Linked DNA regions of Homo sapiens. The protein of the gene in region 2 purifies or fractionates together with the protein of the main gene of each other region. This does not show direct contact. Each region holds a gene or a part of one and is shown on either strand. Other genes may lie near its edges.

What was found.
Region 1: the proteins of KIF3A (region 2) and HEPHL1 purify together in Homo sapiens (affinity purification with mass spectrometry; 2 studies listed by BioGRID and IntAct, with this or other methods). This does not show direct contact.
Region 3: the proteins of KIF3A (region 2) and ATG9B purify together in Homo sapiens (affinity purification with mass spectrometry; 2 studies listed by BioGRID and IntAct, with this or other methods). This does not show direct contact.
Region 4: the proteins of KIF3A (region 2) and PKP1 purify together in Homo sapiens (affinity purification with mass spectrometry; 2 studies listed by BioGRID and IntAct, with this or other methods). This does not show direct contact.

Annotation. Positions count from the first base shown.
Region 1 is NC_000011.10:94,024,344-94,031,369, forward strand, and holds part of HEPHL1 (ferroxidase HEPHL1 precursor), read left to right. Parts: intron 1-7,026. UniProt on the Homo sapiens protein: Is a copper-binding glycoprotein with ferroxidase activity. It oxidizes Fe(2+) to Fe(3+) without releasing radical oxygen species. May be involved in the regulation of intracellular iron content.
Region 2 is NC_000005.10:132,713,538-132,720,563, forward strand, and holds part of KIF3A (kinesin-like protein KIF3A), read right to left. Parts: intron 3,448-7,026; coding exon 3,308-3,447; intron 2,906-3,307; coding exon 2,708-2,905; intron 2,395-2,707; coding exon 2,220-2,394; intron 1-2,219. UniProt on the Homo sapiens protein: Microtubule-based anterograde translocator for membranous organelles. Plus end-directed microtubule sliding activity in vitro. Plays a role in primary cilia formation. Plays a role in centriole cohesion and subdistal appendage organization and function.
Region 3 is NC_000007.14:151,021,469-151,028,704, forward strand, and holds the start of ATG9B (autophagy-related protein 9B), read right to left. Parts: upstream 3,027-7,236; 5' UTR 2,956-3,026; coding exon 2,406-2,955; intron 2,263-2,405; coding exon 2,219-2,262; intron 2,042-2,218; coding exon 1,977-2,041; intron 1,739-1,976; coding exon 1,577-1,738; intron 1-1,576. Other genes in the region: ABCB8 (mitochondrial potassium channel ATP-binding subunit), read left to right, coding at 7,048-7,142. UniProt on the Homo sapiens protein: Phospholipid scramblase involved in autophagy by mediating autophagosomal membrane expansion. Cycles between the preautophagosomal structure/phagophore assembly site (PAS) and the cytoplasmic vesicle pool and supplies membrane for the growing autophagosome.
Region 4 is NC_000001.11:201,286,506-201,293,531, forward strand, and holds part of PKP1 (plakophilin-1), read left to right. Parts: intron 1-7,026. UniProt on the Homo sapiens protein: A component of desmosome cell-cell junctions which are required for positive regulation of cellular adhesion.

The DNA.
Region 1 (7,026 bases), on a different chromosome or scaffold from region 2:
GTAATCCCTAGAGTCACTTGAGAAGTGTAATGCCAAAGCATTAGAAATAATTTTGAAACTGAATGAAAAATATCTTTCCTGACTTGCCAGTTCTAGAAAGATTTTTGCAATGGTGAAAGAAAGGAGAGAGATGATTTGCAAATGTTCAGTCCTAGAAATTAGAGTTGGAGAAGACCTGGGACTGATCGTGGGCATATGTGACAACTTTTGAAGTAGTCTTTATTTTTCTTTCTCCATTTTTTCCCCTGTCCTTTAAGAATTATCTCCAATTCCTCACTTCATACATGAAGCTTTCCCCCATGACCCTGGCTTGTACTGATCTGTTTCCTTCCTAACCACTCATGGAGCTTGGGGTCTTTATCATGAACTTGGACACTGCATTTTCTTCCCTCTGCATTGCCCTCTAATTGCTTGATGTACATTAGTCATGTCTGCAACTGCAGTAAAACACCCTGATGATAGATAAGAAGTTTTGGCGTATATTCAATAATCCCCCTTCCCTGCACGGAACTTTGTCATTGACAATATCCTATGGAGGATCCAGTACAGGGCAGGCATTCAAAATCATTGAAGTAAAAGCTAATCACCTTATCAACTGAGTTGTTCTGGTTGTTTTATCTTTGAATAAGGGGAATGGGCAAAAATCTGGGGAACAAGATGGTGGGTGCCAAAGTTTCAGTAATGTGAAAACATTTGGAAACCAAAGTTAGGCACATCCTTATGCACAAGGACGAGATCGAAAATGAATTGAAATCATTTTGCTGAGACTCTATAGCCCTCAGATGGTGCAAATTAACTTTTATGCTTGGTACCTATGCTTGATTATAGGGTTCAAAAATATAATTGAGTCTATAATCACTAATGTTTCCTAGAAAGTATAGGATTTAGGAGTTAGATTCTATTTAGAAATACTTTCTCCAGATAAATATACTTCTCCTCCTCCTTGGAGTAAATGGGGACACTGGGCTCCTTTGAGTTGCCTGGGGATGGTGTCAGTATTTTGATCTATTTATACCAGTCCTGCTCAGGCTCATAAAGTCCTTAATTAAGGTGTGTGTTTGGTGGTAAAGCCTGATCCTTAATGGAAGTAGGGTGGGGTCATCTTATTTAAAGCCACAGTTCTCACCATAGACCTCATTAGGCCATCAACACACATTCAGCCTTTTTCTTCCCAGTGAAATGCAGGGTTTTCATGGACGCTAACTCATGGGTGGAACTGCGCTTGAACATAAGTGAGGCTAGCCACTGCTCAAACCCCATTTTTGTAGAGTCTGTTAGTTGACCCAGCCACATCACTGCATCAGCCCAGTGTATGGCAAGGGGCTTTGAGTATTCTAAGAAGCAGGCCCTAGGATAGGTGTGAGAGAGAACTCACACATCTATCTGAAAGAAGGACCAACTGAGGGGAAGCAGGGAGGAGACAGAGGTTTTTGTGAGCTTTGAAATAAAGAAAAGAATATCATCTGGTAAGTGCATGGTCTAAACAAATGGTAACTTTCAAATCTCAACTTCTGTCTTATCAGCACCAAAAATATTTTGTTTGGACTGATGCCATATGAATCTCTGGGAACTGCTGTTCTACCCTATATCAGTAAGTGATTGTTTCTGGCTGCCACTAGAGACTGGAGTATAATGTCTTTAACAAATTAGGATTTTGTATTCATTTGTAGAAGAATCCAGAAGTGGGCAGTCCAAGGCTGGTGGGATAGATGGTATAACAAGATATCAGGGGCTTTCTGTATTTCTGATCCACCATCCTTAGCCTATGTGCTTTAAACCCTTTGTGGTTTCCCTCCTCAAGCACATTCATGGTCACAAGATTGCTGTTGGATCTCCAGCCATCGTGTCTACATTCCAGGAAGAAAGAGAGAAAGGCAAAAGGTAGAAGCAGAACAATTTTTGCTGCATCAGCCTTTCAAAGGGTTCTCATTGAAACCCTACCCAACCAATTTTACTTAAATCTCATTGGATACTCATAGCCACAAAGAGGACTTGAAAAAATATAACGTTTCAGCTGTGTACTTTTCTGCCTGAATAAAGATAGAATTTACCTCTGACACTAAGAAAGAAGGGGAGCATGAATATTGCAAGGCAGCTGGCAGTCCCTGCTCCCCTCCCCTACCTCAGTTCTCTCCTGTTTTCCATGATTCACAGGCATCCTCTTAGTCCCCATCTTGCTTTTCCCACCTCCATATGATGGACCCCCAAGGCCTGGTTAGCAGGATCTGAAAGATAACTCATTGACAGTATAATAAGTTAGCTAAGTGTCACTGAGTATTTACTATGCTCCAGGCATTGCTTTAAAAGGTTAGCACACCATGAAGTGGGGTGACCAATCTTCTGTCTCTGGGAGGGAGATCAGGTGGCATCGGGAGGATTTCTCCAGCCAAGTGTAGCCCAGCCTTGGTCTTAGGGAGATGCCAAGGCAGTCCAGTTTGCTGGTAAAGTATGGGGCTCTGGCATCAACTGTCACATTTAGAATTCTTGCCCCACTTTATGGGCAAGTAATTCAATCTCTCTTTGCCTCAGTTTTCTCATCAGTAAAATAGGGATAGTGACAGTACTTGCTTTGAGGGTGTATCAGTTTTCTGTGGCTGCTGTAACAAGTTACAAACTAGGTGGCTTCAAACAACAGCAATTTATTCTCCCCCAGTTTTGGAGGCCAGATGTCTGAACTGCATGTGTTGTCAGGGCCACAATGCCTCTGGAGGTTCTAAGGGAGGGGCCATTCCTTGACTCTTCCAGGTTCTGGTATCTGCCAGCATTCCTTGGCTGTGGCTGCATCACTCTGATCTCTGCCTCCATTTTCATATCGTCGTCTTCTCTCTGTGTGTCTAGCCTATCTTTGCCTCTTACTTATAAGGATGCTTTTGATGGTGTTTAGGGCCCACCCAGCTAATCCAGGATGATCTCCCCATCTCAAGATCCTTAACTTAATCACATCTGCAAAGACCCATTTTTCCAATAAGTTTCTGTGGATGAGGACTGCGGAGTTATCTTTGGGACTTAGGATCTGCACATACTCAGACACAGTGCCTGCCACTTGAGAGCACTTGATCAGCTCTCGTGGTAGCTCTGCCGTCTCACGGGGTTCTTTGGAGAGCAGGAGCCCTGGGGGAAAGACCTTGGCTGGTCACATTTTCCTCTTTTCTAACAAAGCTTTACGCTTTACCAGAAATAATCATAACTGTCATTGATTCAGCACCACTCTCCCAGTTGCTGTGTGTGTGGCTCTACACCTCTTCTCATTGAATCCTTATGATAGCTCTACCATGGTCACTGCTTTACAGCAGAGGAAACTGGTTCAGAGAGGTTAAGTCTCTTCCCCATTTCACAACCAGCAAGTGAGAGAGTTGGGATTCAAGCTCATTTTCATTCCCCCTCATCATGCCATTTGTTTTGAACACACCTTGTATATGAAGGGCTTCTGTGGAAATGAAGAGTGAAAAGGAAGGACCCAAGACATAGGTGGTGCCAGGGACCCAGAGTGAAAGAATGTATATAGAAGCACATCCAGATGGTATTAAAAATTATTAATCTAATAGGGAGGGTGCAGCTTCACCAAACTGAATGTGCAATCTCCGTCTCCACCCTTCCTTTTTCCAAGTGACATTTGTCTCAATCTCATCTTTTTTTCTCCTTGGTGAAGAACGTTCCTTCTCAAGCTCAAACAATATTTCTTGTCCTTATTGTGACTCTTATGATCTCACATGTTGGATCTGACCACACTCTCTGCTAACATTATTTTGCAGTTTATCTTCATCTTATATTTCCCTGCCCTCTACACAGACATGTGGGCTCTGGACAGTAGAGTTGGCAGTTAACATTGTAAAACTGTGTTTACTGTCAAATGCATGTTTTGCTTCCCAACTAGATGGTAAAACTCTTGCATGCAGGGACTGAGATTAATACATCTTGGCCCCAGTTTCTAGTTTTATGTCCCAGACATAGTAGATGATCAGCAATTGCTCCAAGGAAGCTATCAGAAAACATCCCTCTAAAAGATGCAGAGGTCATGGGATTGCTGGGTGGTTTATATCCCTGCAAGCTACGAACTCCTGAGAATCTAACCTGGAAGTCCAACTCTGTACTGTGTAGGGGATTCCCAAGGGCAGGTTTGTTCTGATAATGATTAATCTCCTCTGCTTTTGGAAGATATCTCCATCCACAGGATTGGCCCCAGGCACTGGCAATGTAATGTTCCAAGTCCCCATCTTGTCTTTAAGGCAGTTGTTAATGTTAACCTTCCTGGCCCCACTGGATTCTTTTGCAGCAGGAAGTAGACACCTCCTTAGCTTGAGTCAAGATGTTAGAATGCAGATTGAAAATGTTCTTGAGGAATAGTGATTGCTCAGCCCCTCGCCATGGCTACGTGATAAACAACAGATGGCTCACCAATGCAACATTCTAACAAATATACTCCATTTAAATTGGAGGTTGCTTCATGGGGATGGCTCCCTTGAAGTTACTTCCTTACTTTGTTTCTTGGGCAAATTTGCATTTTATAGAACTCAAAGGAGCTGGAGTTTCTGTTCTACTATTACAAATGCATAATATGTTCTCAATGGGTGGTTTGCTGTGTAGACACTAAAACAAACTACTTTCTCTTATTTCTATCCCTTCCCACTTCTTTTTTTACTTTCAAGCTTTTTTTCCTATTAGTTAAAAAAGTATAGGATCTCACTGTATTGCCCAGGCTAGTCTTAAACTCCTAGCCTCAAGTGATCCTCCCACCTTGGCCTCCCAAAATGCTGGGATTAGGCATGAGCCACCACACCCAGCCTCAACAAATTTTTATCAAATAGTTACTATAGTTTTTGTTTTGTGTGAAGTATCTTCCTAGGGCACCTTCATGGGTCAACCCTGTCCTACTCTTGATGTGGAGTCAGTGCAGGGGAAGAAGTCCTGGGACAAGGAGGAAGCTATGGGTTCTCTTCACTGTCTGAGCAGGAGGCTCCTCCTGCAGCAGAGGAAGAGAGGGTCTTGCAATAATAATTAAATGCCCCCACCCAGAAGTGACACGTGGCATTTCCACTCACAGCCAATTTGCCAGAACACTATGGCCCATCTAACTTGCAAAAGCAGAATCACTGTGGTCTTCTTTGGTTAGGAGGAAAGAAAAATTAGAATACGCAAGCCCTAAAAAGCTCTACTACAGGAATCATTTGGTGATCTTAGGAAAAAATACAGATACCATGGTCTTGCCAGTAGAAAGTCTGATTCCATTGCCCTGAAGTGGGGCCTGAGAATAAAAATTTGGCAAATGTTCCAAATGATTCTGATGCAAGTGGTACATGGGTGGACATTTGGGAACCACTGCTTTAGAAAACCCAATCCCCCCTTGGGGTGACTATTGGCTGTATAGGTGATAAGACTGATATGTGTCCAGGAATATGAAAAACAGTCAATGTATAACTCAGTGCCAAAATATGAAGCATACCATAAGTGCTCCAGTCCCTACAGGGACTCAGCAAACACTTCACTGCCCCTCCTGATACTTATTTTGCCTCTTATTTAGTGCCTTTGCCAGACAACTCATGGTAAGACCTGGTCTTGTGGAGGTGATGGAGAAAGGTCTTGGGCAGAGGTGGGGTCAGGACCTCTTAGCAGATTAAAAGCAGGAGTACATATGTGAAGATGTGAGCATGTGTGCTCCACATGCATCTGCATGTGTGTATACTTTTGTGTCTTCATGTGTGCAGTGGGAGAACAGGGTAGAGAAGTAGAGTCCAATGTCCATCCTTCCCTATAGGGCCTGTTGGAATGATAAGGTCCTATGAATAATAGTTTTGTATTATAGTTTTTACCCATCAGGCTGAACCCAGAGAGCATACCAGGGATTCTGAATCTAATCCTTGCTGTGCCACCTTACTGGGTGACCCATTGTCAGCTATAAAACTGGGCAACTCTGAGGCTTATTAGCAAGCTTGGGGATGACTCAGTTCTTCCTCTGCCTCTTCCTCTTCCTTCTCCTTTTGCACAGCCTGTTCAATCAGGAGTTGTATTCAGCTACTCTTTAACAGAATCCTGAAAAACAGAAGTGGTTTAAATCGATTAAAGATTTATTATTATTGCTTACATAAAAGAGAGCCAGAGGTTGGCAATCATCTGGGTCCCAGGTTCCTTTTGGCTCTCACTTGACCATTCCTAGGGTGTGACCCTCTTCCTCGTTATCTCAAGATGGCTGCTGGAGCTCCAGTCATCATGTCTACATTTCAGGCATGAATAAAGGGAAGAGAAGAGGAGAAAAATGGTGTCTTCCAGCTACACCTGGAGAAGTATCATTGAGTGACTTCTGCTTACATCTGATTGGCTAGAATTATGTCACATGACTATTCCAAGTTGCAAGCAAGTCTGAGAAATGTAACAGCCTCTATTATAAAGGTCCAGGGGTCAGGCATCCCAACTTTTATATCCCATTCTCTTGCACAGGGAAATGTAAGTCTTTGCCTTATAGAGTGGGAGAGGGCTAACTCTTGCTCCTGGGTAGACACATGCAGGCTTAGTGGATGCTTGGATACAAGAGACCCAGAATGTTCATACACAGTCCCAAGACTTCAGCCTCAATGCCTGAGAGGAGAGTTGGCAAGCCAGAGGTTGAGCAGGGATAGTGAGCAGATGCCATGCTCTCTGCTCCAGAGGCCAATCCCCTTGCAGAGCAGAACTCAATCCAACAACACCCTTTGTTGTGGCAGCTTTGTTTTTAGAAATAGAAGGCATGCAAGAGAATTTTGGCCCCTTGGAGGCCAAACAGCATGGGTCTTCTTTTTTTTTCAATAAAACGTGAGCTTGTTTTTAGTATTGAATTTGTAGGTACAGAGTAACCGCCCCTCCCCCTACAACAGTATAAAAGAGGATGAGTGAAAGTAAACTTCTCCTCCGTCCTCCCTCCCACCTGTGGCTTCAGTCTCATAGTCTGGAGGCTACACTTTGTTTCCCTGGTCACTTTCCAGATGTATTCTTTGCATATGGGTAAATGTGCATTGTTACACACACACACACACACACACACACACACACACACAC
Region 2 (7,026 bases):
AAAGAAATGTCATAAGAGCAAAAATGAACTGAAATGTATTAACAACAGTATTATCATAGAATCCAGCAATTCCATTGCTGGGTACATACCCCAAAAATGGTAAAACAAGAATTCAAACAGGTATTAGTATACCCACGTTCATAGCAGCATTATTCACAATAGCCAAAAGGTGGAAAGAACCAACTGTCCATTGGTGGATGAATGGATAACAAAATGTAGTATATACACAATGGAATGTTATTCAGAATTAAAAAGAAGTCCTGATACATTCTACAACACGGATGACCCTTGAAGGCATTATACTAAATGAAATAAGCCAGTCACAAAAAGACAAATGCTGTATTTCACTTTCTTTTTTTTTTTTTTTTTTTTTTTTGAGATGGGAGTCTCACTCTGCCACCCAGGCTGGAGTGCAGTGGCATAATCTCGGCTCATTGCCACCTCCACCTTCCAGGTTCAAGTGATCCTCCTGCCTCAGCCTCCCAAGTAGCTGGGATTACAGGCGAGAGCCACCATGCCCAGCTAATTTTTGTATTTTCAGTAAAGATGGGGTTTCACCGTGTTGGCCAGGCTGGTCTCGAACTCCTGACCTCAACTGATCCACCCGCCTCGGCCTCACAAAGTGCTGGGATTACAAGCGTGAGCCACTGCGCCCCACCAATTCCGCTTTCGTAAGATACCCAGAGCAGTCAAATTCATAGACAAAGCAGAATGGTTGTTGGCCAGGAACTAGGGGAAGGGAGGAATGGGTACATACTGTTTTTAATGAGTACAAAGTTTCAATTTTGCAAGAAGAAAACTGAAGACGGATAACTGCAGAACAATGTGAATGTAATGCCACAGAAATGTAGACTTAAATGTGATTAAAATGGTAAACTTTATGTTATGCAAGTTTAACCACAATTTTTTAAAAAGGAATAAAATTCAGGCACTTGCTACAATATGGATGAACCTTCAACGTTCTGTTAAGTGAAATAAGCCAGTCACAAGTAGATACTCCATGATTTTACTTATATGAGGTACCTAGAATAGTCAAATTCATAGAGACCGAAAGTAGAATAGTGGTTACCAGAGACTGGGGGAGAAAAGAATAGGAAGTTACTACTTAAATGGGCACAGCATTTCTGTTTGGGATGATGAAAAATTTCTAGAAATGAATAGTGGTGACAGTTGCACAACAATGCGAATATACTTGATGCCACTAACTGTACACTTAACTAACAATGGTTACAATGATAAATTTTATGTCATGTATATTTTACCACAACAAAAAAATGTAAAACATAAAGTCAGCAAAATAAAAGTATGCACTCACCGTTAACATCGCTAAGAAATTAAAAATCTTTAAAACATACTGGCTATAAATACCACCTAGTGGTCACATTTAAAACACCAAATTTCATTATCTAACAGTTCTCTTACTGCTTTTCCTCAATAACTACTTGTTTACTAAATAAGTACCCTCTCTAAACATTTGTGATGCTGGCGTCTCTGAATTTCACCTCTGATCTAGTCAGTCTTCTCACAGACTACAAAGGTGCTTTGAAACCAAAGCCCTGTTTACGTGGTTCGCGAAGGAGCTCTGTACCAATCAGAAAGGATCTGTTTCTCGCATTAAGGTGCAAGGACTCACTCAGCACTTAATGACTGGGAAGCGTCTCACTCTCATAAATAAGATCTTCAAATTTTCCAACTTTCTAGCATGATATTGTTAGAAAAGAATTTCCAAAATACAATCTCATGTTCAAATTTAGGTATGAAAGGATATTTTAAAGGTCATGCAATGCATTTTTCCTTATAGCAAACTTGGTTTACTCATGACTGTCTAATATCTTGCTTTACTTCAAACAATAGTTAGTTGATATTGATTGCAATGCCAGAATTCTGGTCATTTTCACCTAAATACATACATTGCAGAATTTGCTCTTATACAGAGACAAATAAACATTCATTCCTTAAAAAGTGGTCATATGAAATCTACAAAACATCATGCAAATGTTTTTAAAAAACCACATACACAAATATTATGTAATTTTACTTAAGCTTAATATGAAAATGCGAAAGTATGTAAGTACCAAGTCACTTTCTAGAAATATTCATTTAACTACCAATGTTAGAGGCTCAAAAAAGGTTTAATAGAGGGCTTTTGTTAGAACAGTTAGTGGTTCAACAATGTATTTTTAGCCAACATAAAGATTAATATTTTGAGGAAAAGCTACCTTCTTCAAGCTTCTTTTTCAGTTCTTCTATTTCTTTCTGGAACTGACGCAGCAAAGCATCCTTTGGATCTTCATTAATTCTAGCTTTATTTTTAATATTCTTAGCACGATTGGCATACCGTAATGTACTGATAGTTTCATCATAATTGTAATCTGCTGGCCCAATATTTGCACACTATTGAATTAGAAATATGAAACAAATCATTTTACACTTGACAGAGTTAAAATTAATACTACCATTACAAATACATCAAAAACATTTAAAGCACATATGCACCCTTGGCCTTCTCGAAAATGAGAGTGTCAACCACATGAGTTTCCAAAGGACACTATTATGGGCTAATACACGAGTGTACCACAAAAAGGACAACCACAAGTCAAAAAAAGTAAAATAATCAAGTTTAAAAAATGTGATACGTATCAATTATTGGCATAAATTACAATCTTAAATTTGCCTGATGTTAACTATATCACCAATTAAGTCTTACCATCATGGTTTTTGAATTTCCTCCTAAGGAATCCTGAAGAAGACGAGTCAGTTTAGAGTTACGATAAGGCACATGAGTGCTTTTTCCATCAACCAAGGCAGAAATTACATTACCAAGGGTGGAAAGTGAAAGATTGATTTTTGTAGCTTCCTTTAGGCGCTGTCCAGTAGCTCCAGTTTTTGCCTGTCTTTCTGAACCCTAGCAATAAACAGAGATGAAAGTAAAGCTAAAATTTTTTTAAAAATAGAATATTCTTCCCAAGGTTTTATTAAAAAGTAATGTAACAGTAAAAAACCTGATATGATGCCTGAATTCACTTCAAAATAATATAGGAAAGGAAGAAGTGGGGGAGAGTACATGAAACAAGATTAGCCATGAGCTGATTGTTGGGAGTTGGGTGATCAGTGTATGGGGGATCACTATACTATTCTATCTACTTTCATATACATTTGAAATGTTCCATAATAAATAATAAACATACACAAGTAACACCTTAAAAATCATATGTAAATCATACCTTTTCACTTTAATTTTCATTCATTTATAAAATAAATGGATCACAAGAAAGAGTTATTCCTTAAGCAGTGTCCTGTTACTTACAGCAAGATCTACAAGATGGAGCTTCCCCATCCTGACATGCATGTTACCATCAATGCCTTTTTCACTGCATTCTATAGTAATTGTAAAGATGGCATGGGAACGGGAACTATGTTCGTTCATATTAGTTGCACCAACAGAACCTTTAATAAATAAACGAAATCCTTTAAAAGTGTAACAGAGAGTGCCTTTAAAAATAATTAAACATCCTGAACAGTTTAAAACACTTAATTTTATCACAATCAAAAGCCAGAGAGCATGGCTAAACCATAAAGGCATGGGTGTGTACTTAGCCACTACATGAAATTTCTCTTATACTTTGTTGATAACAAATTTGTAAGGTTTCTCATATTAAAGACATAACTTTAGCAAAAAATAATTTCAATCCCTAGTAATACTGCCTAAAAAATAACTAATTTACACCAAAAAACCACATTAATTGGAAAAATTATTGCTGATTTAGCTATCTAAAGAGAAGTATGCATGCTGGTGTACTGCAGGAAGTAAAAAACAATAATAATAAAGAGAATTTTAGCTACTTGGGAGGCTGAGGCACAAGAATCACTTGAATCCGAGAGGTGGAGGTTGCAGTGAGCTGAGATTGCGCCACTGCACTCCAGCTTGAACATATAAACCACAGGAATACTTGCACACATATGTTAGACAATACAACAATATTCAGTGCAGCATTAAAAAAAATAAGGTAGATCTAAAAACGTGGAAAAATGTCCATAACATATAAATTAAAAATAAAAGCAAGTTAGAAAGAAATACATAACATAATCCTACTTCTGTAAAAAAAAAAAATCCATTCAAAATATGCAAAGTATTTGCATATGTGTAAATATATGAATATATTGTGTAAACAAAAAACATTTTTTTACAATAGACCTGTATTAGTTTTTTTCTTAAATTCCAAAGTATTTTAAAGTTAATTTTACTCAATGCCAAAATTATCTTCCTACTATACATTCATGCAGCATTTTTCTGTGCAAGCTTTGATTTTATAATTGAAACATTAAAAGGGTAATCTTTAATGAAGTGACCAAAAGCTCCAATTAACTACCTGAGAATTAAATTAATTTCATTCTATGAATGAAATCTTGTGTTAAAATTTTTAATTAAATAACCAATAATTAACATATTTCTGGTATTTGTTTTTTTAATAAAAGCATACAGAAAGCATAAAGTGAAAGCTCCTGACATTCCTTTTCCCCAATTTTATTTCTCCTTCTCTAAAGGTAACCACTACAATCTGTCCTTTCATTCTGTATTTTATATACATACGTGTAGACACAAACACACACACACTGCCCAAATAAATATATGGTTTAACAATTTTTCACATATAAATAAATGGGGTAAGGCAGTACATACATACTGTTCTACAATTTGCTTTTATCCCCCCACTGACAAACATACTTTGAAAATCTTCCAGCTCTGTGTAGGCACATTTACCTGACTGGGTTTTTTTGTTGTTTTGTTTGAGACAGGGTCTCCCTCTGTCACCCAGGCTGGAGGGCAGTGGCACAATCTCGGCTCACTGCAACCTCCACCTCCCAGGTTCAAGTGATCCTCCGGCCTCAACCTCCTGAGTAGCTGAGATCACAGGTGCGCACCACCACGCCCAGCTAATTTTTGTATTTTTAGCAGAGACGAGGTTTCACCAGGTTGGCCAGGCTGGTCTCAAACTCCTGGCCTCAAGTGATCCATCCGCCTCAGCCACCCAGAGTGCTGGGATTATATGCATGAGCCACCACACTCAGCTTGTTGTTTTTTTTGTTGTTGTTTTGTTTTGTTTTTGAGACAGAGTCTTCCTCTATTGCCCAGGCTGGAGTTCAGTGGTGCTATCTTGGCTCACTGCAACCTCTGCCTCCCAGGTTCAAGCAATTCTGCTGCCTCAGCATCCCAAGTAGCTGGGATTATAGGCGTAAGCCACCACGTCTGGCTGATTTTTTTGTATTTTTAGTTGAGATGGGGTTTCGCCATGTTGCACAGGCTGGTCTCTAACTCCTGAGTTCAGGAAATCTGCCCACCTTGGCCTCCCAGAGTGTTGGGATTACAGGCATGAGCCACCACACCCAGCCTAACTCATTGTTTTTAACAGCTTTATTACAGTCTATGGTATTTTTGTGTCATCATTTACATAATCAGGGTTTTATTGAAGGTTATTTAGATTGTTACATCTAAAAATATTTTCCAGAATGTCTAAAATTAGAAACACAGAGTCAAAAGGAATGTATTTTAAAATGTCAACAGATACTGTTAACAATGCCCTTCAAATAGGCTGCACCAATTTATATTCCATCCTCAGTGCCCATTTCTTCAAAGTCTCACCAACCTACATATCCTTCATCTAATCTGATGGGTGAAACATCTCTCTCTATCTTGTTTTAGCATTTTCCTGATTAGTTGTGAAGTTAAACAGCCTTTCACATACTTATTGCTGTGCTTAGTTCTTCTACGAATAACATACATATTTTTTGCTAATTTTTCTATTAAGATTTGGTCTTTTTCTATTAATTGGTTCATAAGAATGTAATTGATTTTTGAAGTTTTGTTGTTTGATTTCCTTGGGTTTGATATATCTATCGTCAAGTCACAGAAACTTATAAAAATTTTTCATTTCCTATTTCTCATCTTTTACCTCTAATCCCTCTTTTTTTCTTTTTTTTTTGGTTGCTGTGTTGCCCAAGTTGGAGTGCAGTGGCGCGATCTCGGCTCACTGCAACTTCTGCCTTCCTGGTTAAAACGATTCTCCTGCCACAGCCTCCCGAGTAACTGGGATTACAGGCACCCACCACCACTCCCAGCTAATTTTTGTATTTTTAGTAGAGACGGGGTTTCACCATGTTGGCCAGGCTGGTCTCAAACAAGTGATCCACCCACCTCAGCCTCCCAAAGTGCTGGGATTACAGGTGTGAGCCACCGCGACCAGACTTTTCACCTCTAATTTCTAATTGCTATTAGCTGCATCACCAGTACTAGGTTTGAGGCATCTGTATAATATCGCTGAAGCTTCCTACTCTTTAGACTAAAAATGTGACACAATTACTAAAAAGAATACAATTTTTTAATTTAAATTTTGTTTTGCTTTTCTTGTCAACAAAAGGGAAGCATTACAGTGCCTAGTTAATGCAGACTACTGGCCTAGGTTTTTTGGGTTTCTTCCAGGTGGGTTTCTTTAGGACAGGGGCTCCCTATTGTCCAGGCTGGTCTCAAACTCCTGGCCTCAAATGATCCTCCCAGTTCAGCCTCCCGAGTTGCTGGGATTACAGGCATGAGCCACTGTGCGTGGCTATGGCTTAGGTGTGATCACTCACTCTACCACTTAGTAGTTATAGTACTTAGACAAGTTACTTAAACTAAGTCTCACTTTCTTCATTCATAAAGTAAGAATTTAATGTCTTCATAGTCTCCTGTGAGGACTAAGAGAGCATCTTTATGAAGCACTTAGCACAAGCACTCTCCACTAAGAGCTCAATAAACATTACCAATTTTACTATTATAGCTACCAAGAGACAGCCGTATGAGAGTTGCATAGATTGGCGCTACTAAAAAGAAACAAAATTTTGCTCGGCATGGAAAATGATTTGTGGTATCTTTCATTCATCTATGCTCTCTACATGGTAAATAATCAAAGTGGAATGGTTTTCAAGAAACCTAAAAAATCCAGTCTCTACAGGGTAAAGTGCCATACCAAATTTGCTTCTAAACCAGCC
Region 3 (7,236 bases), on a different chromosome or scaffold from region 2:
AGGGGGTGGGTGCTGAAGTGGCCTTCACAAATGTGCAAAGTCAAACTTTTTCCAAATAATACTAATGCTTTCTGATGTTTTCATTCTTGTACTCTGAGAGTACAGTGGAGTTTTCCAGAGGCTACAAGACACGTGAACATGTCACATCACACTGACAGCTGATGAAATGTGTGCTTGTACACTCTTTTTTTTTTTTTTTGAGATGGAGTCTTGCTGTGTCGCCCAGGCTGGAGTGCAGTGGCGCAATCTTGGCTCACTGCAACCTCCACCTCCCGGGTTCAAATGATTCTCCTGTCTCAGCCTCCAGGGTAGCTGGGACTACAGGCGCCCGCCACCACACCTGGCTAATTTTTGTATATTTTAGTAGAGACAGGGTTTCACCATGTTGGCCAGAATGGTTTTGATCTCCTGACCTTGTGATCCGCCCGCCTCGGCCTCCCAAAGTGCTGAGATTACAGGTGTGAGCCACCACGCCCAGCCGCACTCTTACATTTTAAAGTTGTTCTCAGCTACAATTTCCTTCTTTTTTTTTTTTCCTTTTTATTGAAACAAGGTCTCTCTCTGTTACCCAGGCTGTAGTGCAGCAGTAGAAACATAGCTCCTATCTCCCTGCCAAATAACGGCCCAGGTCTGGAACAGTTATTTGGTTGGTTGGCAAAGAGAACATTGCAATCCATGCTTCAGGGAGGAAGGTTGTGAAGGCAACAATGAAAATGAATCGTCTGCTGGGAGGGAGGAGGGTGTAGGGATGCTGCAGTGATCAGAGACAGTCACTGTCTTAGCCTCCTGACTAGGCTTAGCTAGGACTGCAGGTACGCACCACCAAGCCCAGCTAATTTTTATTTTTTATAGAGATGTGGTCTCACTTTGTTGCTCAGGCTGATCTCAAACTTCTGGCTTCAAGCAATCCTCCTGCCTCAGCCTCCCAAAGTGCTGGGATTACAGGTGTGAACCACTATGCCCGGCCTAATTTTAATTTTTTATAAGGTAAAATGTGGATAGATACGACTCCCATAAACAAAAGCTTTTCAGGATTCTCAACCAATTTTAAGTGTATTAAGATACACTTAATGCACTGTAATTAAGATACACTTAAAAGGCCGGGCACAGTGGCTCACACCTGTAATCCCAGCACTTTGGGAGGCCAAAGTGGGTGGATCACCTGAGGCCAGGAGTTCCAGACCAGCCTGGCCAACATGGTGAAACCCTGTCTCTACTAAAAATACACGTGGTGGTGCACGCCTATAATCCCAGCTACTGGGGAGGCTGAGGCAGGAGAATTGCTTGAACCTGGGAGGTGGAGGTTGCAGTGAGCCAAGACCTCACCATTGCACTCCAGCCTGAGCAACAAGAGTGAAACTCTGTCTTAAAAAAAAAAAAAGATATACTTAATACACTTTAAGTACAACTTAATACACTTAAGTACAACTTAAAGTATATTAAGTGTATTTTTGGTCCTAAGACCAAAAGCTTTGAGAACTGCTGATCTAGATGACGGGACAAAGTGGGGCTCCCGTCTACTCCTCTACCCACTGCCCATGCTTCACCCCCAGGGCCCCACCAGGTTGTCACTAACCTCTCAGCACACTGGGCTGAGGGTAGGATGGCATCTGACAGGGTCACTTTGCTGTGGAACGGCCCAGGTCTGGTATGGTTACTTGGTTGGTTGGCAAAGAGAACATTGTAATCCACGCATCGAAGGAGGAAGGTTGTGAAGGTGACAATGAAAATAAATTGTCTGCCGGGAGGAAGGGGGGGTGCCGGGATGCTGCAGTGATCAGGGACAGCCAGGTGGGCTCCTGCCCCAGCCCCCAGAGCAGCCCATGGTTATCCTCCCTGACCCTGCCCCTGCTGAGCCCTTGGGCTGCTCGGGAAAGCATGGGATGGAAGCAGCTGGCACAATTAAGGAAGCAAAATGACAGAAGGAAGCCATGGGCCCAGGGGACCGAGTTCCGGGCCCGGGCTAAGCGTCTCACCCCAGCTGGAAGACATCCTCCAGCAAGATGCAGGCAAAGCCATTCCGCTGGTGGTAGCTGTAGATGTGGCTGCGTGTCAAGGAACAAGCCTGAGGCACGGGGGGCCTCTCCTGAGGACACCTCCCCTCAGCCCCAACAAGTCTCCCACCCATGACGCCCTCACGGAGTCTCCCTGCCAAGAACAGTGCCAGCTCCAAGAGGACCTTCCCATGCCACCTCTGCAGGCCTAGCGCAAAGGATATCTTGGTGAAGAAACTGTCCAGGTTCTGGATGTGATGCCAGGAGCCTGGGCACAGAGGGGAGAGTGTCAGCCCCTGGCATGTGATCAATTCTCCACGTTCTCAACCCGCTGCCAGAGGCCCAGCCTGGGATAAGTACTGGAGCTCCCAGGCACCACTAACCCTCTCCCACCCACACCCACACACATACCTCGGAGCCCTTCAGGGACATGAAGCAGGGGTTGCTGCTCCTCCCCGTGGATGGGTGAGTCTTGGGACCCCTCAGGGTCACAGTCCTCCAGCCGCTCATAATCCTGTTCAGGGATCAAAGGGCCTACCCGCAGCCCAGGAGAGTCCTGGGGGCACTGCTGTGAGGGAGTGGGGGTTGCCGGGGCCAGGGGTGGGGTGGAGTGGGATCCCCAGGAGGGAGATGCAGAGGCAGGTGTCATTGCAGGTTGAGCCTGTGTTGGGGGGGTGGCTGGGATAGGGAGAGCACTGTGGCAAGACTGAGAAGCCCCTGTCCCCTGTAGCACTGAGCAAGGGGGCCCTGCGGTGGGAGGGGAAAATGAGGAGGGGGAGCTTCTTGTATGAGGGGCAGGGGACAGAGAGAAGATGGAGATCCTCCCTCCCCCAGGTCCCCGGCATGAAGGAGGAGGAGGAGGTGGCAGTGGCATGGGGAGGAGGGGCACCGATCCGGGCCCCAGATCTCCCCACCGCCCCAGCCGCCTTCTTCTCCCCCCCCAGCCCATTCGGCTCACCATCAGGCCACGGCTTCTCCAGAAAGGTTGGAAGGATGGGAGCTGTTGTTGCTTCCACAAAGGTCTGTGACACTGAGCTGGGACTTCAACAGGAACAATGACAACAACATTACTAGGTGACTCAGCCTAGGCAGGCCTCAGGCGTCCCAGCTCTCAGTCACCTGTCTGATCACTCACACCCCTTCCAGGGCAACCTGAGGCCAAATCCCTCAGGGCCTGAGAGGGGCATCAGTTTAAGAGGAGGGGCCAAAGAGCACATTGAGATGAGAAGATTCCTATTATCTCCATCTTCAGACCTTGAATGAATGAAAGATAAAAAGAACAGCAGCCAAAATGACAAAAGCAAAAAGCAAAATCGTGTTAGAGCCAGGTGTGGTGATGTGTGCTTGTGTTCCTAGCTACTCAAGAGACTGAGGTGGGAGGATGGCTTGGTGCAGGTTACACTGGAACAGTATAGGTTACAGTGAGCTAGATCCTGCCCCCTGCCACCCCCCCCAAAAACATCCTATTAAAGGATTGTAGCAGGGCGCAGTACCTCACACTTGTAATCAATCTCAGCACTTTGGGAAGCCGAGGAAAGAGGATTGCTTGAGGCCAGGAGTTCAAGACCAGCCTGGGGAACAGAATGAGAAGACTCCATCTCTACAACAAATCTTAGGACCAAGATGTTAACTATTTCATTTCTTAAGAGTGTACCTCCCCCACTTCCCTCCACACACACACTACAGTGATCAACAGAGAAATGTTTTGTGACCAAAACAGAAAAGAAGAAGTAAAGGGGCCAGGCATGTTGGCTTACACCCGTAATCCCAGGACTTTGGGAGGCCCGGGCGAGAGGATCACTTGAGGCCAGGAGTTCGAGACCAGCCTGAGCAACTTAGGGAAACACCATCTCTACAAAATCTAAAAAACAAACAAAATAATTTTTTTTCTTTTTGAGGCAGTCTCACTCTGTCACCCAGACTGGAGTATAGTGGCACAATCTCGGCTCACTGCAACCTCCGCCTCCCAAGTTCAAGTGATTCTTCTGCTTCAGCCTCCTGAGTAGCTGAGACTACAGGTGTGTGCCACCACACCCAGCTAATTTTTTGTATTTTTAGTAGAGATGGGGTTTCACCATGTTGGCCAGGCTGGTCTTGAACTCCTGACCTCGTGATCCACCCGCCTTGGCCTCCCAAAGTGCTGGCATTACAGGCGTGAGCCACTGCGCCTGGTCAAAAATAAATTTTTTAAAAAGAATAAGAAAAGGTTGCATGTTTTATTGGTCTGAGGTGCTAAGGAAGAGAAGAGGGGAGGCTGACTTTGCAGCCAAGTTGGGGAAAACTAAGAAGAGGAGGTGAAGAAAGGAAAGGCAGCTATCTTGGATTTGAGAGTTGGTTTGGAGAACTTAGAGTAGAAAATTGGGGTTCTCTGAAAGTTCCATTCCGTTTGCATCCTTATCATTTTCAACTGTGACATTCTCTCAAGTCCGGATCCCACTTCTGGGACCCCCTGAAAAGCATCAGGGCTGAATCAGAAGGGAGGACAGCTGTGAGTCTGGGACTTGGAAGGATAATTTGGATACCCAGGGAGGAGCTGAACTGAGTTCCTTGTTGTCACCTCAACAAGGAGGAGGAGACCCAGGCAGCTGGTCTGGTGGCTTGCCCAACGCCATTCTTGAGGCCCTGAATCACCAGGTTTCCTTCTAAAGCCCATTACTGAGATACTGACTCAGCCACCAGGTGTCAAGGTCTCTAGGGCTTAGGCCTAAGGGCTGATGTTGGGGCCAGTACCCCTGAAATGGCGATATGGACACTGTGCTTCCCAGATTGTTCACTGGAGGCAATCATGGAATCACCCACAAAACTTGAATCCAGATGTGCCTGATTTTCTCCTTCTGTGTGGGGTATTGTAGTAGTAGCTCAGGTCTTGCATGCCTTTATCTCAGAGTAGGAGGCAGAGCTATGAAAACAAGACCCTGTCCTTCTAGAGGTAGCAAAATGGAATCCCACATTGCAGAGGGGCCAGGAAATTCCCATAATCTTTCTGAGACATCTGTCAAGATGGGTTATGTGGGGTGTTGTCTAGTCTCTCCCCCACCTCACTCGCCCAATGTCACTCAGTATCGTGGCTATTCCACCATAGTCACAATAGGACCCCCCCATACACCAAGAGCTCCCCAGCTCAACCCCAAACTAATCCTGGGACATTGTCCTACCTAGTTTCACCCTGAATTCATTCTCATTGACAGCCTCCCTACCACCACTCCCAATTCAAGTCGATTTATTTTAAAGGGCACTTTTCCTTGCCAAGCATTTGGAAGGGAAGAGGACAGATGAATAAAACAGAGCCACTACCCAAGAAGCTGCAGCCCAGTGGGGAGACAAATACGCAAACAAGTAATTACAGGGAAGAAACGAGTGGTGCAAACTCTTTGGCAGGAGCCTGAGGCAAGTCATTCTGACCCGGGTGAGGAAGGTATCTGCGAGGCAGACAGATCTGAGGCCGCGCCTTGATAAATTACAGGCCCTCCATACCAATAGTTCTCAATGGCTGAGGCGTAGGGCAAGAGTGTCAGAATCACCGGGGGAGTTCTTCCCCAAGTACACGTGACTGTGGGGAAAAGAAAGAGAGATCAGATTGTTCCTGTGTCTGTGTAGAAAGAAGTAGACATAGGAGACTCCATTTTGTTCTGTACTAAGAAAAATTCTTCTGCCTTGAGATGCTGTTGATCTGTAACCCTACCCCCAACCCTGTGCTCCCTGAAACATGTGCTGTGTCAACTCAGGGTTAAATGGATTAAGGGCTGTGCACGGTGTGCTTTGTTAAACAAATTCTTGAAGGCAGCATGCTTCTTAAGAGTCATCACCACTCCCTAATCTCAAACCACTCCCTAATCTCAAGTACCCAGACACAAAACACTGAGGAAGGCTGCAGGGACCTCTGCCTAGGAAAGCTAGGTATTGTCCAAGGTTTCTCCCCATGTGATGAAATATGGCCTCGTGGGAAGGGAAAGACCTGACCGTCCCCCAGCCCGACACCCATAAAGGGTCTGTACTGAGGAGGATTAGTAAAAGAGGAAGGAATGCCTCTTTGCAGTTGAGATAAAAGAAAGGCTTCTGTCTCCTGCTCGTCCCTGGGCAATGGAAATGTCTCGGTGTAAAGCCTATCTCTACTGAGATAGGGGAAAACCGCCTTAGGGCTGGAGGTGGGACAGGCTGGCAGCAATACTGCTTCTTAAGGCATTGTGATGTTTATGTGTATGCACATCAAAAGCACAGCATTTTTTTTTTTACCTTGTTTACGATGCAGAGACGTTTGTTCACGTGTTTACCTTCTGACCTTCTCTCCACTATTATCCTATTATCCTGCCATACCCGATAATGATCAATAAATACTAAGGGAACTCAGAGGCTGGTGCCGGCGTGGATCTTCCGTAAACTGAACTCCGGTCTCCTGGGCCCATTTTTCTTTCTCTATACTTTGTCTCTCTGTCTCTTTCTTTTCCAAGTCTCTCCTTCCACCTAATGAGAAACGCCCACAGGTGTGGAGGGGCAACCCACCCCTTCACGTGACAGATGTCCCAGCAGTTCTGACGCACCTAGGAGAGCGGGGTGGGTGGCAGGGCATATGTACGTGTTTTGAAAAAACTCCCAGTCGATTTTTGTTCATTCCTCCCCCAAAACCCGCGTTCTACACGCCCTTGAGACGACGGGACATCTAGAGATCCTGGAGCCTTGGGAAAATGGCCCGAGGTCGGCGGCTGACGCGTTACTATGGATACTCCATAGCTTGGAGGGCCAGTCGGGCCACACCCTTTGGACGTCACCCGGAGCCCACAGGAGCACCTGGCAAAAGCCAGGCCCACTTCCTGCTCGGCTCCGCCCAGAGCAGGGGGCGGGCGGATAGGCGATTCCCTCCAATCACAGTTCCAAAAGGAGGGGGCTGACAACATATCCTCCAATCACAGCTTGAAGTGAGATTGATGTGTCTTTTCACCAATCACCGCCAAGGCGCGAGGGGGTTGTCGGGATGGGGGCGGGAGCCAACATAGAGCCCTCAGTGGGATGAGGGTGAAACTGCTATTGCCGGCGGCTCCTGTTTTACCGCGTCAGCATGCTGGTGCATTTATTTCGGGTCGGGATTCGGGGTGGCCCATTCCCAGGCAGGCTGCTACCGCCCCTCCGCTTCCAGACATTCTCAGCTGTCAGGTAAAAACGGAAAAACCTACTCAGAGCGGGCCATTGACCGCCCGGCAGGGCAGTGCCGGCCCGCCGGGAGATGGAGTCCACGAGCTTGCGCGAG
Region 4 (7,026 bases), on a different chromosome or scaffold from region 2:
GAGCCACTGAGGACTGGAGGAAGGGCCCCTGGAGCCTGTCACAAAATGCCTGTCTGCACTCATGCTCTCCCTGAAATGCCACAGATCAGACAAGCACCTTGCCCTGGTCATGAAGGCCCCGGGCAGGAAGAAGGTGGCTTCTGTGGCCTGGAGACCTTGCAGAAGGAGGTTGCTCTGAACCTGCCTACCCATCTTGAACTGCCCCTGAAGTATTGCTCCCCTGTGTTTTCAGGCTGTCCCTGTGTGCCTCAGGGTGTCTGGCCTCCTTTTCTTCCCAGACTGTGTGGAAGGCAAGGGGAAACTGAGGGGGATGTCACCACCCAGCAAAAGATCTTTGCCAGGGAAATGACCTCCCTGAGGATGGGGAAGGAAACACTTATCCACCTTCCAGATCTTTATAACTTCACTTGGAATCTCTTCCTAAAGCTGAACCTGAATCTCACTTGCCCTAACCCAAGCGCTCCCCCGCCACTGTGAATACAGATCACACCCAGCTCAGTGAAAGGAGCTTCCTTTCACCTGTCCTGTCTCCTTCCAGGGAAGTCCTAACAACACCAGCACCATTGCCTGCTTTGTCTCACTGCCTGCTTAGCCATCTGTGATTTTTTATTTCAGCCTTTGGCCTGAAATTCTCTTTCTCCCTTCTTCATAGAAGTACTGTTTCCCATCTAAAATTGCTAAGCCTCTATTTCTCTCTGATCAGAGGTAGGGGCTGGAGGCAACATTGAGCCAGGGGAGGTGCCTGCTCCCTTTCTGTAGTTCCTGTGTCTATTCAGCCCTCATCAGGGGAGAGGGGGGCATGCTTGTACGAACTCCGCAGCCTGCACAGTGAAGGAGCTCGCCTCAGGAGCCCCCACTTTGATGGCTTTTTGTATTTGTGTTTGACTATGTCTCAGCATGAGCTTCTGCCCGAGTGTTCTGCTCATTAGAGTTTCTAGAAAGTTGTCCTTTCCTGACCACAGGCATCACTTCTGGGGTTGTTTTCTTGGGACCGAAGCTGAGATTGCAGATGGTAATGGCTATGTGTGCTTTAGCTTGTTCCATTGGCGAAACATACCAATTAAACTTCAAATGAACCAATTCTTGTTTCTTTACAATGTACCTTGGCTTGAAGTTGGAGTTTTAGCCAGAATTTCCGTTGGCCTGTTACAACACATGCAAAAATGCTGGGTATTCTAGGGTGTTTTGCAGCAAATGCTGCTTCTCTGGATCCTGCTCCTTGACAGAGATTTTTTAAAAGTACAAATTCCTCCCCCGACCCCATACCATTGTAAGTATCATTGTGCCAATTGTTCTAGGTTTAGAAATCTGGGAAGCGCTTCTGCGATGGGCCGTGACCCTTACAAGATGTGTAATGTTTGAACAAAATAAAATGGACGAATGTTAGATATCTTCATGTGAAGTTCCTTCTAGGCATACGCTGGACACATGCGCACACATGTATACACACATAGGTCACACATGCATATATGCATGTATACACAATACACCCCACACATGAATCCACACACCCACACATGCACACACGTACACACACATAACATGCACACACTTATGTTATGTGTGTGTACATGTGTGTCCTTGCAGCTGTGCTGTGTCAGGAGCCCAGCCTGGCATCTACCTGGTGTGCGATCTTGGACAAGTCGCTGCCTCTCTTTGGGTCTCTGCAGCTGTCAGAGGTTGGATTAGATCATCTCCAAAGTGCTTTGCAATGGGAACACTCTTTGGAAATAGATTTTATAACTCTCTAGCTCTGCAAACCATTTGCCCAGACCGCCAGCAGCTGTTCTGCCAAAAAGCTCTTCCCCTTAAGGCATGCCACTCATCGTGTCTCTCTCGTAAACATCCTAACATATTAAAAAGTCTTCTCATCCACTCTTCTCAAACTTGGCTACATATTGGAATCACCTGGAAATTTCAAACAACACAAATGCGTGAGTCCCACCCCCAGAGATTCTGACTTAGTGAGTATGAAAGATGGCACGGGCATCAGGACTTCAGAAACTCCCAGGTGATTCTCATGTGTAGCCAAGTTGGAGAACCACTGTTCTAGTCCCTGTCCTTCACTCACACAGATCCAGCATGGGGGAGCACCCCTATACAATGACATACACCCATGTCTTTCTCTCATACACACACACACACGCACACTTAATGTAGTAGTTGCTGGCGAGAGCCTTTGACTCTGAACCCCACCTGAACCCGTCAACCCTTGCCCACTCTAACCCACCACCCTGCCCCCTCACGCCCATCCTGTCCCCACAGGATGCTCCCATGCTCTGCCCAGTCCTCAGGCTTGGTGGTGGCCATGAACAGATCTGCTGAAAGAGCAGCAGGATTGTGGCAGAGCTAGGTCTGAACGCGTCCCAGCAGAGCCTGAGGGAGTCACATGGGCTGGAGAGGGAGAAGAGAGAACACAGGCCACAGCAACCCAGTTTGTTTCAGCATTTCTGTTCAGTACGTACACCCAGGAAAAGGTCAAGAGCCACACCAAAGTGCCCGGTGAGGCTGTGCTGAACTCCTTGCCCTCCCCATCTCCTAGAAGCTGCCGAGTTGGGGAGGCATGTCCACGGTGCTCCCAGCAGCCCAGCAGAGGGGGCAGGAGGCTGGCCAGCCCAGTCCTCCCTCCAGGAGCTGGAACCATCCCGCAGACACAGTCCACTCCTGCCCACTCCGAAACACCTCTGAGGGTATTCTCTCAGCAGTAGCTTCCTGGCAGTTCTTGTTATCTCATTTAAATTCCTATTGCTGTGGGCCTAGCTTTTCTGGGCACCATGGGTGAAAGAGATTTCAGAGGGTGAAGTAAAGGCATTTTCAAGACTAAAAGAAAATGAGCTTCCTTTCTCAAGCTTTTCATGCTGAAGGACAGGTGGGCTTTATTCAAAAGTAGAATATGCTAGAAGAAGCATCGGCCTTAAGGGAGACAGAGTAAGCAAGAATGTGTTCCGAGCAGCTTGCCCTGTGACGAAGGAGAAGGATTTGAGGGGAGGGAAAGTGGAAAAAGCGGATTTCCCTATGACCTCTGTCTGCAGGAAGGCTGATGTCCTGAGAGCCTTCTCTATGTAGAACCTGGGCCTGGGATTGGGGGTGTGGAGTGTGGATCTACCAAAGGTGAAGATTCCTTGCTTCAGGGAGCTCCCAGCTTGGTTGGGGAGACCCAGGCCCTACCTTCTGGGAGGAGTGCACACACACACACACACACACACACACACACACACACAGTGTACAGAAGCCACATTCCAAGGAGCCCACAAGCCAGTGCAGAGTCAGCCGCTGGATTGAGTGCTGACATGGTTATGCTGGCAAGTTTGGAGTGCTCAGAGCTGGGTGCGGTCATCTTTAGGAGAAGCTGATTTTTGTGCAAGGTTTTGAATGCAGGGGGAGGGTTGGAGAAGAAGAGAAAGAATGTTTCAGGTGCAGTAAGTGTGACCTATTTGAAAGCTTGGAGGTGGAAGAGGATGAGTCATCCCTGCAAAGGCTCACCTGCCCCTACTGGAGAGAGATTTCCACTCATCCTAAAGAAGGAGCTGCCTCCAGTTTCAAAGGTTTTGAGGCGAGAAAGCTTGAGTTGCACCGATGACACAAGAAAGAATCAGCCTGTCGTTGTCTAAGGCACCAAAGGGAAGCAGTGTGCCAGGACACTGGTGACCTGAGCGGTAGATTTTCTGAGATGGTTTTACACCCTAAAACGCGGATGTAAAATCAGACGAGCTATGTGGACAGAGCAGGTTGTGTTGCTTGTATACCTGGGAAAGTGGCAGATGCTCTGAGGCACTTGCTCCTTGACCTTGGGGTTCTGTGGGTGGGCAGATGCTTCCTGAGGATGGCACACAGGTTGGGCACACTGTCAGTGTCACCGAGAAGCCACCACATCCCTGCTCATGCTGCATGCACCCATATGGGGAGAAGAGGGGCAAAGCAGATGCTTAGCTGGAGGGTAGGAGTGATTCTGTGGGGTGAGCTGGGAACTAGCCCCTCCCCCATTCCCCAGGAACTAAGAATCCTCCTCAAGGAGGTGGCCTTGGGTATTTGAGAGCTGCAGCAGCCCTCCTCTCTTCCTGGTTTACCCCACTCACCAGGGACCTCTTTGAGTGGGAGGAGAGCCTGACCCCATTCTAAGCCTCTAAGCACCAGGCATCAGAGCACGTTCACCACAAGGGTTGGGCAAGGGAGAAGAGGTCATTGACGCAAAGAGCCAGCTCAAGCCAGTCAGGCCCAGACCCAGCTGGGGCAATGCCCTGAACTCAAGGTCCCAGGGAAAGAAAGACATGGTTCGCACTTCAGAGAGTGTCCAAAGTACATGGTGGTGGAGACTTGTACGGGCGTGAGATGGAGATGGGAGTAGGCGTCATTCATCAGGAAAGGCTTCCTAGAAGTGCATTCTAGAGACATCGGGGACCAAGTGGAAGAGTGAGCTAGCACCATTACACTCATTAGAAGCCCATGCTCTTGCTATTGAACTTGACTTTTAGAGGGCATTACTTACCAGTCAGACACCCCAGGGTCAAGAGAGGGAAAATCACTTTTGTTGTGGGAGCAGTGCTCTTACAGACAGAGCACACCTGCCCCCAGTACTCCTTGGTTATCTGGCACACTGCGAGCTGTGATTTCAGGTGTGTGACAACTATGGACTTTTCCCCTCTCTCACCACCTCCGCCCCAAATACTGTCACCTTCTGCCAGATTAGCAGTGCAGGCAGGTGTGATGTTACCCTCATTCTCACCAGAGCCAAGCAGACCCCAACTACAGATAGGTCTTAGGAGATGCCTTCAGGAACTGCCTGGAAGGGCCTGCAGGCCACAAGTGAGTGACAGTCACACCTGCCTTTACCAGAGTTCATGCTGGACATGGGGACTGGCTTTGGGAACTGCAGGGCATTCTGGCCTCTCCCTCCATGTGTCTGTGTGTCCACTGCCACCTCCATGGCAGAGAGGCCTCTACCTTCATACAGAGAAGAGTGTATGAGAGGGAGGCAGGCAGGTGCAGGGTGTGGCGGGAGGAGATGGTTAGTCTGATGACCCATGGGGAGAGCAGCATCATGCTGACAGGTTCTCTCCCAGAAGACGGGCAAGAAGGCCCTGGTGCAAGCCCCCCGGGGCTGCTTCTCATAGCAGGAGGCCTCCCCGGTGCTCCATAAAGTTCTGTCTGTCACCACCCCAAATTTTCCACCCAGAAGCAGCTGACTGACCCACACCTGACCTTTGGTGAGAAATACCTGCTCACAGGGCCAGATCCAAATGAACTCTATCCTATCAAACCTTGGAAGAATGATCAAAGTGGGCTGGGTGGAAGGGAGGCAGACAAGACCTGGTGGTTGGCCACCTAGGGTCCTGACTATGAGTGTGCCTGGCTGCAGCCCCCTTCCTTGGGAGCACCAGTCCTGAGTGACTGAGCCCATGAGATTGCCTCCAGCCTCTTCCTGATAAGGACAGTCTTGCCAGAGGAGCGGTTGCTGGAGAAAGGTGGAGGAAGAGCTGTGTGCACTCTACAGGGAGCTTGGAGGAAGCCAGAGGTTCAATGGGCCACATGGCAGAGTCCCAGGATGTTGCTCATAGGCGGATGGCCCTTCTGGAGTCAGGGCTAGGCCTGGAGTATAGGGGAGGCCTCTCAGAGGACCCTGAGGCAGGTGGCAAACGAGGCGGTAGTGTGGCCTTTGATGTCTGCCCTTCTTCCTTGTAAGCTGAGCTGTGTCTCTGGAGAGGAGGAGTCGGCTCCTCTGAACGCAGTCAGGCACGTGTCACTATCATCACACCACCACAGGGCAGTGGAACTGTACGGGGCCTATGGGAGGTAAGAGGCCAACCCTCTCTTTTGACAGAAGAGGACACTGAGGCTCAGAGAGAGCAAGTGACTTGCCCAGGTGCCAGAACCAGGACAAATATCAACACCGCTAGGCCCCCAGGGCAAGCTGTGTCTGCCACAGCTTGAGACCCCTAATGTCCATGATGGAAGGGTGCAGAGAGTTGGGCAGCACTCTCTGCTGTGGGCTATGGGTGGTGACCTGGCGCTGGACAGGGGAGGTGGCACGAGGTGGGGATCCCTGCCTCATTCCAAAGCTGCCCCTTGGCTATTCCCTCTACTCCCAGCTCAGATATTCCAGCCCTGCTCCCCCAGGCAATGGCCGGGGAGCCTAAGTGGGTGTGGCAGATGGGGAGGAGCTACCTTGGCTGGGTGAGATCACTGCCCAACTCTCTTCCCCACAGACAGGGTTTCCGATGGGGGAGTCTGACCATCGCTTTAGAGAAAAGGAGTGCATATCCCTCTTAGGAGGCTCTCACTGGATCCCACTCACCTTCATCCCCCAAGGCCATCACTTAACAAGAGTGTGGGCCAGGCCACGGAGCCATGGCTTGCTCTTCGTGGAGCTCCCAGTATAGCTGAGGGAATGGGACGCAGGGCAGAATGAGACTTGGGCTACCAAGAGCAGGACAGTATGTGTTTAGAGGCAGGAGAGATTGCCTTGTGCAGAACTGATCAGAAAGGGCTTCCTGGAGTGGGTGAGGTCTTGAGCTTGGCTTCAAAAGATGAGCAAGATTAGAAGGTAGTGGCCAAGGAGGGAAGGCAGGTTTGGCATGGAGGGAGATGTGAGTAAAGTGGTGAGCCTGTCACCATTGGCCATATTTCAAGGACAGCAGGACAGTGAACAGACCAGCTTGTGCAGAGTTGATGCTATCCCTTAGGGTGTCCCTGCTGGCCAGTGAAAGGGAGATGAGGGGGGTGGCCCCACTAGGAGCCCCAAATCCAGTTCTGTTTTCTGTGATGCAAAGCCACTTTGCCACTAATAACCCTAATGACACTCTGTCCTCCTGCGGAGCCTGTCATTTGTGGGTCTCCAAGCACTCCGAAAACATTAATTAATCCTCACTGGGCCTTTGAGGTTGATCGCCGCTCCCCCTTCACCAGCCAGAGCATGTTAGAGGTGAAAGAATGGGAGGAAGTTTGGTCACTGGTAGGGGCTGGGCTGAGATTTGAATCCAGAGTCCTGTCCTGAATCAATCTCTAATCAGCTGTTGCTGCTGGACTGGG